Regions from separate parts of the Homo sapiens genome. Here region 1 is linked to region 2. The links come from fine-mapping of genetic effects on gene expression. A gene starts in region 2. The other region holds a variant in brackets. All regions are shown on one strand. Distances are from middle to middle.

The links. PIP is the estimated chance that this variant, and not a neighbour inherited with it, causes the effect. A credible set is the group of variants that fine-mapping cannot tell apart.
Region 1: its variant is the best candidate, but not a certain one, in a credible set for the expression of HIKESHI in whole blood (INTERVAL, PIP 0.60).

The regions. Positions count from the first base shown.
Region 1 is chr11:86,332,715-86,338,101 of GRCh38, reverse strand. It overlaps HIKESHI (heat shock protein nuclear import factor hikeshi), which reads right to left. Exons shown (of 5, transcript NM_016401.4): 3 at 572-723. It overlaps LOC105369421 (a long non-coding RNA gene), which reads left to right. Exons shown (of 5, transcript XR_007062826.1): 5 at 1,169-2,138. Among named protein-coding and RNA genes, the nearest start is that of HIKESHI, 33 kb to the right of the region's middle. The variant T/A (reference allele first, on the strand shown) is at 2,888.
Region 2 is chr11:86,299,775-86,305,161 of GRCh38, reverse strand. It overlaps HIKESHI (heat shock protein nuclear import factor hikeshi), which reads right to left and starts at 2,922. Exons shown (of 5, transcript NM_016401.4): 1 at 2,684-2,922. The coding sequence starts at 2,713.

The DNA of each region.
Region 1 (5,387 bases), 33 kb before region 2:
ACAGCATGGAGAATACAGTTACTAATAATGTATACTTGTAATTTGCTAAGAGATCAGATCTTAACTGTTCTCTACAAAAAAATGATGACTGTGTGAGGTGACTGATATGTTAAGTAGCTTGATTTTATGTCAAAATATAGGCTGGGTGTGGTGGCTCACACCTGTAATCCCAGCACTTTGGGAGGCCGAGGCAGGAAGATCACCTGAGGTCTGGAGTTCGAGACCAGCCTGGCCAACATGGCAATACCCTGTCTCTACTAAAAAAAAAATACAAAACTTAGCCGGGTGTGGTGACATGTGCCTGTAGTCCCAGCTACTCAGGAGACTGAGGCAGGAGAATCGCTTGAACCCGGGAGGCGGAAATTGCAGTCAGCCGAGATTGCGCCACTGCACTCCAGCCTGGGCAACAGAGCAAGACTCCATCTCTCAAAAACAAAATAAAACAAAACAAAATGTAAACATGTATCAAAAACATCACATTGTATACCCTAAGTTACGATTTTAACTTGTATATTATACCTTAATAAAGCAGTGGAGGGGGAGGTAAAGAATGAAATGTATGTTGCATTACCTGAGTGAATGAGTCAACTGAGGATACAGCAGCATTACCTACAGGAGTCTGCTGAGCCATACTGTCTAATAATTCCACTGAAATTCCAATCTGAGCAACAGATGGAGTTCGGACAATATTCATGGCTCCAAAAGGATGTTGGCTTCCTTCTCCTGCAAGAAATTAACATATGACACACATTTCAAATTAAACTTGTAGTCACACAATTTCCTTTGTAAATTTATAAAGAACCTCTAATTTATATACATGAAAAAGTTTTATGTCCAAGTTTGTCCCTCTTTTCAGATAAATGCAAAAGCCTACTTCGTTTTTAGCATATTAACAAAGAATAAAAGAACTAAAAGTTTCCCACCAGAAAAATAGCTGTCACATTTCTGAAATGTATTGAAACTACTGCAACTAGACACAGACAGTAACAGAGTGTGGGAAAAATAAATAATTAATAGAGAAGACTCCCTTTAGCATTCCTTATGGAGCAGGTCTGCCAGCAATGACTTAGTTTTTGTTTATCTAGGAAAGTATTTCTCCTTCATCTCTAAAGACAGTTTTGCTGAGTATATAATTCCTGGTTGATGGCTTTTTTTTTTTTCCTTTCAGAACTCTGAATATGCCAATCCACTACCGTCTAGAAGACTATGGGGTCTCTGATGAGAAATCAGCTATTAATCTTAGCAAGGATCCTTGCATGTGATGAGTTACTTCTCTTGATGCTTTCAACATTCTCTCTTTACCTTTTGACAGTTTGATTATCGTGTGTCTTGGTGTAGTTTATCCTACTTGGAGTTTCTTGAGCTTCTTAAATGTGGTTAATGTTTTTCCTCAAATTTGAGAAGTTTCTGAGCATTATTTATTTAAATATTGTTTTAGTCTGTTCAGGCTGCTATAACAAAACACCATAAACTGGGTAGCTTATAAACATCGGAAATTTATTTCTCACAGTTCTGGAGGTTGGGAAGTCCAAGATCAAGGAACCGGCAGATTTGGTATCTGGTGAAGGACCATTTTCTGGTTCAGACAGTGCCTTCTCACTGTGTTCTCACGTGGTAGTAGGGCAAGTGATCTTCTTATTACTCTAAGAGTGGTAATCCCATTCATGAGGGCTCTACTCCCATGACCCAGTCACCATCCAAGTCCCTACCTCCCAATACCTTGGGGGTTAGGATTTCAGCATATAAATTTAAAAGACCTCATCATATAAAAAGACACAAACATTCAGACCAGAGCAAATATTCTTTCCAGCCCTCCCGCCTTTCCATATGTTACTCTCATTACACTGTGTCTGCTGTGCATGTTGGTGCACTTGAGGGTGTCTCACAGGTCTCTAAGGGTCTGCTCTTCAAACTGGATATTCCAATTAATTTATCTTCGACTTCACTGATTCTTTCTTCTGTCTACTCAATTCTGCTATCTAAGCCCTTTAGTGAACCATTCAGTTACTGTACTTTTCAGCTATAAACTCTGTTTAGTTCCTTTCTATAATTTCTATATTGATATTCTCTATTTGATGATGTATCATTCTTCTGGTTTCCTTTAGCAATTTGAGCATAATAAAGACAGCTTACTTAAAGTCTTTGCCTGTGCTTCCCTGGGGGAAGTTTCTGTTCGTTTCCTCTGTATAAGAGCCTTACTTTGTTTCTTTGTATGTTTCATAATTTTTTGTAGAAAACTGGACATTTTGAATATTACAATGTGACGACGCTATAAATCAGATGTTTCCACCTTCTAGGGGTTTGTTGTTGCTGTTTATTGTAGTTGTTTCCTCATTTAATGACTTATCTGAACTAATTTTGTAAAGTCTGTTTCTTTGTTATGTGTGGCCAGTGAAGTCTCTGTTCCATTAGTTAGTAGTCTGCTAGTGATTAGAAAGAAATTTCCTTAAACCTCTGCAACCAAAAAATTCTGCCAGTCTTTGCAGATGGGCTCTGCGTGTTGGGACATGCCTTTAGTATTCAGCCAGGCAGTTTATAACTCCACCTTAGTCTTCACTTCCTGCTTGTGCGGAGACTTAAAGTGAGCCAGAAGAGAGAGCTCTGGGTCTTCGCGGGTCTTTCCTGAGCATGCACAAAGCTCTGGGAATGCACGTACCCTTCTAGATTACCAAGAATATGTCAGAGAATTTCAAAGCCCTCATTCCCCAAAGCATCTCATTCCCAACCTTTCTGGTTAGTTTTGGTTTACTCCAACTGTTTTCCTTTGCCTCGGGCAACAGTAGCTAAAACATATGTCTGTAAATACTTTTAACAAACACCCCCAAGGTAGATACTTTTCCATGAAGAGTTCCAAGTTAGGTGACATAAAGGCAGACCTCTTTTTTTT[T/A]AAACAGTCTTCTAGCAAGCCACCAGACAGATGAAAACAAGTTAATTACAATTCTTTCTGAATTAGGTCTATCCTGCTCCCTATATCAGTACCAGGAATGGAGTCTGTTATTTTCAAGGCTATCACTGAGCTGAGAAGCAGATGGGACAAGGGTAGCCAAATGCCACAAAGCTCACTGTTCTTACTGAGATTCAGTGTATTTTCTTGATTAAATGTTCCCCTGATTGCTACAAGCTTTTGGTTAGTTACCAGAGTTCCAAAAAAGTTGATTCTGGGTCAGACACAGTTGCTCATATCCTGTAATCCCAACACTTTCAGAGGCTGAGGCAGGAGGACTGCTTGAGCCCAGAAGTTTGAGACCAGCCTGGGCAACATGGGGAGACCCCATCTCTACAAAAGTTAGCCAGGCGAGGTGGTGCATGCTTGTGGTCCTAGCTACTTGGGAGGTGGAGGTGGGAGGATCGCTTAGGCCTAGGAGATCGAGACTACAGTGAGCTGTGATCTTCTGACAGTGTTGTTGTTGCTTTTATGGAAGACTGGATTTTCTGGAGCTCCTTACTCTACCGTTTGATTTCTTTTAAATCTAGAATTATGCTAAAATCCAGAAAACATATCATTATCAAAGCATATCATCAAATAGATGCAAAAATAATAAATTATAAATCATAATACAAAGAAGAGCAAGCAAAATATATGACCTAGTCTTAATATAAAAAACAAATGTAAATTAGATCAAGTTCTTTAAAACACTGTTAACAGTAAATGCAGCAGCTAATTTTTTTTAAGACTCTTTCTCAAAGCATCCCTCCTCCATGTAAATCAAGAGCCTAACACAAAACACAACTCAGAGGAAAAATTCCTACAGGGAGCTAGTTCTTTATTCTCAGTATACAAGGAAAAGCAGTCACCATCATTTGTTATTTGCATCTAATGGAAACTTTACACACACACACACACACACACACACACACACACACATATTTTACAAAGAATGTTGAGAAGAATCAGGAAATAGTGGAAAACAACTTTATTAGATTTTTTCTAAGTATTTAAGTACAGCAAATCCAGATAGTCATTCCACATTTTCCTTGTTTTTAAGATATAGCTGAAATGGGCTATGTCCTGTGAATACAACTGCCCATCAACCATCATGGATAAACATGGAACACATGCGTCTTATGGAACACATCCATTTTATAAATTTCATAAGTCAGATATCTATTAATAAAGTTATAGCTTATGGTTGTATCTTGTTCTTTTTTTGGCATCTACATTGCCATAATATAATACCTGAAAGCTTGAAGTTTTGAAACCTTTAACGGCTCATAATTTGTTGAAGGATGGCTATCCTCTGATCTACATTTTGCAAAATATTTTCATTTTTAGATTTATAACCATTATTTAGAATGATCAAGCCAATTATTTTTTTTTTCATTCCTATACCTATTTCCTTCCAATCACTTCTCTATACACCCCTGCTTTCAGCATTTGTCTATTTATAAAACCATATCCAGTCTATTTTGGAACACAAATATAAGAGATAAAAGAATAGCAGAACACATCCTTTACTACTTGTCCATGACAAAATATTATGTGAGAAATTCCTTCTTCTTAAATGACTGAGTAGAATACCATATTTCTTTTCTTTTTTTTTTTTGTTTGTTTGTTGTTGTTGTTGTTGAGACAGAGTCTCACTCTGTTGCCCAGGCTGGAGTGCGGTAGGACGATCTTGGCTCACTGCAACCTCCGCCTCCTGGGTTCAAGCAATTCTCATGCCTCAGCCTCCCGAGTAGCTGGGATTACAGGCCTGTGCAACCACACCGGCTAATTTTCAAATTTTTAGTGCAGACGGGGTTTCACCATGTTGGCCAGGCCAATCTGGAACTCTTGACCTCAAGTGATCCACCCATCTCGGCCTCCCAAAGTGCTGGGATTACAGACATGAGCCACCGCACCCGGCCTCATATTTTCTCTTGATCCTTAAAAATACATTGTTCAATCATCAAATTTTTAGTTGAGAAAACTCAGATAATGAGATCTTATTTGAAGATTCATAGTAGGTAATTTTGCTTATATGATCCACTTTACCATCGTCATCAGTGTAGAATTTACCTTTCAGTATTCATTTTCTGATTTGTCTAATAATTGTGAAACTTCTTCCTCTGTCAATTTTCTTCTCTTTGCCATTATGAACAAAATATTTAAAAGTATGAATTTACATTCTGTTCAATAAAAGCTAAAAAGAGACCATAAAGATGGTGTCTCCAGTCTCCTTTTATATTACTTAAAAGGTGGCATAATCTTTTGGGCAATGCAACATGAAAATTGTAGGTTAATGCAATGACAAACCAAGGCCCACAGGCCAAATCGGTCCCACAACCTATTTTGTATGACGTGGGAGCTAAGAATGGTTTTCAAATATTTAAAGGGTTGTTTAAGAATAATATGCCACAGAGATCAAATGTAGCCCACAATGCCTACAATATTTTCTAACTGATCC
Region 2 (5,387 bases):
CAGGGGTGGTGGCATGCGCCTTTGGTCCCAGCTACTCGGGAGGCTAAGACCAGATAATCACTTGAACCCAGGATGTCAAGGCTGCAGCAAGCCGAGGTCCCGCCACTGCACTACAGCCTGGATGACAGAGCATGACCCTGTCTCAAAAATAAATAAAAGAATCTCAGGTAATTAAAACAGGTAAGCAATCCAGAAGTAATTAGGCAATCCTCCTTATTCACAAATCCTGTATCTGAATTCACCTACTCACTAAAACTCACTTGTAATCCCAAATCAATGCTTGCTGCATTTCTGCAGTCATTCATGGACATACTCATATGAACAGTAGTAAAAAATGTGAGTTGTAGGCCTGGCACAGTGGCTCATGCCTGTAATCCCAGCACTTTGGGAGGCCAAGGCGGGTTGATCACCTGAGGTCAGGAGTTCCAGATCAGCCTGGCCAACATGGCGAAACGTAGTATCTACTAAAAATATAAAAATTAGCTGGGCATGGGGGCACATGCCTGTAGTCTCAGCTACTCAGGAGGCTGAGGCATGAGAATTGCTTGAACCTGGAGGCGGAGGTTGCGATGAGCAGAGATCACACCATTGCACTCCAGCCTGGCTGACAGAGTAAGACTCCGTCTCAAAAAAAAAAAAAAAAAAAAAAGTGAGTTGTGCAACTCACACACTGGCAGCTGAGGTAGAACATGCCATCTTGTTTCAGTCCTCGTAATATGAAAAAGTGTCCTTTTCACAGTCTCATCTATTTAAAGCATTTTTGTGATTTTTGTTGGTGATCGTGCTGTTTAAAATGACCAAGTTCAAGTGCTGGCTAGTCTTCCTAAGTGCAAGAAGGCTATGACATGCCTTACAGAGAAAATATGTGTGTTAGGTAAGTTTTCCCTCTATAATATCCTATCTACCGATACAAATAAACTTAGGAAAAATATACTGCTATGTAATTTCAACTATCTATTAGTTATAAAGTAGTATCAACTGGCTGCCCTAAATTAAGTCTCAAGATACAAAGGCAGTGTTCCTAAAGTCAAATTCTGATTCCCTCTTCAGAAGTATTCTGACCCACTTTAAAATCCTCCAGCTTTAGTATAAAGAATAAAACAAAGGAATAACACAAACCAAATGGCCTGTATTAGTATTAAATTCAATTTCACCAGTCTTTGGCATGCATATAACCTAAAAAGCATGGGAAATTATTATTTATGAGTCTTGAAATAACCACCAGGCAAAATAAATATTTCTTAAGTGTCAACTTTGTATAGGTACTGAACAGTCTGCAAATCTGTATCATCACACTCTAATTTTTGACATTAAGAAAAGGTGTATCTCTTTAAGAAAAAAAATCTTAAGAAATAAAAACTGGGTTCATAAGTTTAGATAAGTAGATTTTTCTTATAACAGAGTCGTGTAGTTAAGTTTTGAGATGCCACTAGGTCTATTTGTCCTTCACTTTGATGTGTCCTAATACTCCATAATTAAAGGACCAAGTATCCCCAATATATAGAGGCAGGTATTACCATAACTAAATTTCCTTCCAAATTAGTTGACAACGTGAGAGATACATGGATTCCAAATAGGCTTTTTATTCTTTAAGAAACACAATTTTAATGTCATTCATTAATAACACTCACTCGTCTGAGTCACACAATCATTCCAGGTTTGTCCTTTTTCCCTATTAAGAGCAGGGCAAAATTATCTCACCAGGATTATGAATTACCACCATCACCACAGGGGTCTCCCAGTCATTCAAGAGACAAACTTTATGAGGCTAGTCATCTCCAACTTATCTTTCTGGCTTCTTAGAACTGTATATGTACAGAATACAATACATTATCAAAACTTGATGGGAAAAAAAGACAATTCAGCAAAGGGACTGCAACATTTTAAAAAGCCAGGAGAAAAAAGAAGGAAAAATACTTCTAGGGGAAAGGAATCAGGCCTGAAAATTGATGTCTGTGTGGTTTCTAAGGAAACAAACAAGATTCACCTTCCAGATTATTCCTAAAGAATTCCAGGTGCTGTTCTCATTTACTCTAACAATTTGGCAAGGTAAGTTATCTATTTTGACCCATAAGGAAACACACTACTCGCATCCTTCTCTGGTTATCTCAGATACGGCTCACACGTTAAGTTTCAGCCAACTTCCAATTAAATTAAGCTTATTTTTACTCGGGTTCTTCCAAAGGGACCCAAAAGATATACATTCCCTGAGCACCTTAATCTTTGAAAAACAGTTTGCTATAGACCAAATTCAATCCCAAATTCACCTCTACCTCAAGTTAATAAAGAAGGTATTTATACTGGCGATTGAACTTAGTTCTGTAACTGCAAAATGTCAAAGATAAAGACCATCTCACGAGTTATGAGGATTAAGTTCAAAGTGCCAAATAAGCGCCACACATAAGGCTGAGTGACCAAAGGCGTGCATTGCACTTAGCCCAGTACTTGGTACAAAATGCACACTTAATAAATGCCAACTTATACTGTGACTACTATTCGAAAGAATCTGAATAGAGCTGGGCAAAGGAGAGCACCCAGCTTCCCACGCTCCATCCTCACATACCCACCCAAAATATAATAAGTGGGCTTCCCCGCATCCCTAGCGCCTGCGCACCCTCCCTGCCGTAGGGCTTCGCCCTCGGTATCCTGACCCCTTCCTGATATCACCCGGTCCCATCCTCACCAGCCTCCCCGCCACCAAGCAGCCAAACATGGCGACGGCAGCTCCGTTCAGCCGGCAGTGACCTGAAGCCGGCGACTAGGAGTCCTGGGGCTACTGCCCTAGTCGAGACTAAGAACCTTCCAGAATTTGCGGGAGGGTGTCTGCCCCTCCACTACATAGTGACTGGGCCAGCGGCAAGAATGCCTCTGCCCCCGCGAACTCTGACCTTCTCTTCCTAAGCAGCCCACTGCTCAGGCAACAAGTACTTCCGGGGCTTACACCCGGTTTTCCCCACTAAGGAAGAAAGGCGGGCCAGCGCCAGTACAAGACTACAAGTCCCAGAACAAGTCCCAGAGGGCACCGCGCCAGTTTCCGGGAAGGTAAGCCTGGAGGCTTTGCACACTGGGATCGGTAGTCCGGGTGTTTTATAGCCACAAAATCTGTGGATCCTTCATTTCCATGTACAATCCTGGGAAGAGATGCTTCTAACGTTTCTGTGACATCTGAGAGATTAACGGTGCACTTTTACAATAATCACGTCACTAGATCTTTACAAAAACCCTATGAGGTAAGTATTATAATCCAAATTTTATAGGAGTGATCAGCCTCAAATCTTTACACAGCAGTAAATGTTGGAGGCTGAATTCAAGTCCTAATCCAAATCCGGGTTTCTTTCTGCTACACAGTGTCTCAGAAGTATTAATCTTTAACCAATTGTTTTGTACTTGTCTACAATTTATAGTAGTTCTTTCCAGCTTCACTTAGTTCTCCCATTCATTTGCTGTACAATTGTGGACGAGTTGTAGATGTCTTTGTGCTTCAGTGCCCCTCCTTTGCAAAAGACAAATAATGAGCCTATTGCCTAGGGTTGCTGTGAGGATTAAATGAGCTAATATGTATAAAACACTTAAAACAGTGCTTGGCTGTGCTTAATTAGTGGGAGTTTTATTGTAAAAATGTCTATTTTTTTTCTATGTGGATCTGCAGAAAAGTTTCATAGGAAATACAAAACAATAGCCAAAAAAAAAAAAAAAAATACTGGCATTAAGTACCGATTGCCACCAATACTTATTCTCCCTTTCACAGCTCCAATTCCTTTTCTTCTTGAATAGGATAGTAAAGGGTCTCTGTCCAATTTGAAATATCTGAGCTTGGCCACCAGCCGTAAAGCAGGTCTGTCTTCCCAGTTCTCAGTTTATATATGGGGGATCAGTGTTTGGAACAGTCCTCTGGCCTCCACTGTGGATCCCTAAACTGATCACCTATCTTATCACCGATACTCCTTTGAGATAGCTGTGCCAAAGGTGAAGAGGTAGGAAAGGATCTACCAATGTTTCCAACTTACTATCTAAAAAGTCCTAGAACCTTCAGAATAAAAAGGCCATTCATATGAAGACCACTTCATAAATTAAGGCACCCACACTACCTGGGTTCAGAGCCCATCTCTGCCATTTATTAGTTACATAATCTCAGGCAAGTTAACCTAACACTCCCATACCTCCTTTTCCCCATCTTTAAAATGAAGTAATAGTAGTATCTACCTCATAAAGTTGTTTTGAGGGTTCTTACACGTAAAGTACTCAATAGTGGCCAGAATGTAGCTTACTCAATAAATGTTAATATTTAGCATTATTGCCTTTCCTAACTAATTTTCCATGTCTTCTTCATACCCACCTTGTGCACTAGCCATACTTTTGAATTCTCTGAGCAACTCCTACTTTTAAATTTGTATGTGCTTATGCAACTTGTTTTATCTCCCTGTAATATTCACTTGGTTATTTCTTACACATCCTCTCACTTTTCTTCACTAACCTTTCTATGACCCACCTGATAGTCATTTCTTCTCCTACCCAGCAATCTTATATTTAGTGGATTGAGAACTAGCTAGCTTAGAATTTTTTTTATAAATTACAGATGATGTTTATTAATTGTCTCAATCTCTGTTATGTGAGATATGAGCTTTTTCTCCATTTTGCTGGTCAACTGTCTTAGTTATAGATTGTACAAAGAGTTAGAGGCAGTGAGTACAGTATCATATCTCTAGAGTAGCCAGTATTCCAGCTACCAAACTATATTATTTGTACATACAGTAGTTCTTTGTAACTTCTGCGGGCAGAACTAGATACAGTGTGAGGAAGTGAAAAAATGTTTCAGGGAAAAAAATCTTTCCAATAATCAGAGCTCTCTGAAATAAGAATAGATAGTCATGGAATAGAGTGAATGCTCCTATTCACATTGATATTGTAACCAATGCTGAAATCCACTTACATTGTTGAGGAGACTTACGGAAAATTGGGGAAATTGGCTGAAAACCTCAGAGGTACTCCCCCCCATCTCAAACTATATGATTCTATGGAGTAAGAACCAGTTATAGTTTAATTGTGGCCAGGGTATCAGGGATTCTGAATCCTGGTGTTAGCTCTTCATTAATTAACCTAATGATGAGATCATTTATTTTATCATTTTGGCCATTATGTTTCTTCCAATTCTAGGTTGAATTCTGACTTGAAGAGAGCAAAAAAATATTTTTTCTCTTCTCTGAAAAATTTTTCTTTACAAAACAAGGAGAACAACAAATAGACACACAAACTCTGTCTTCCCTGAACTGGGAGATATCTGTAACCCCAAGTCACAACAGATATCAATGGAAAGTAGATAAAAGAAAGGCAAATGACTTAGCAGAGGCGTGGAAGATCAAACTCAGGTACTACAGAGAAAGATAAAT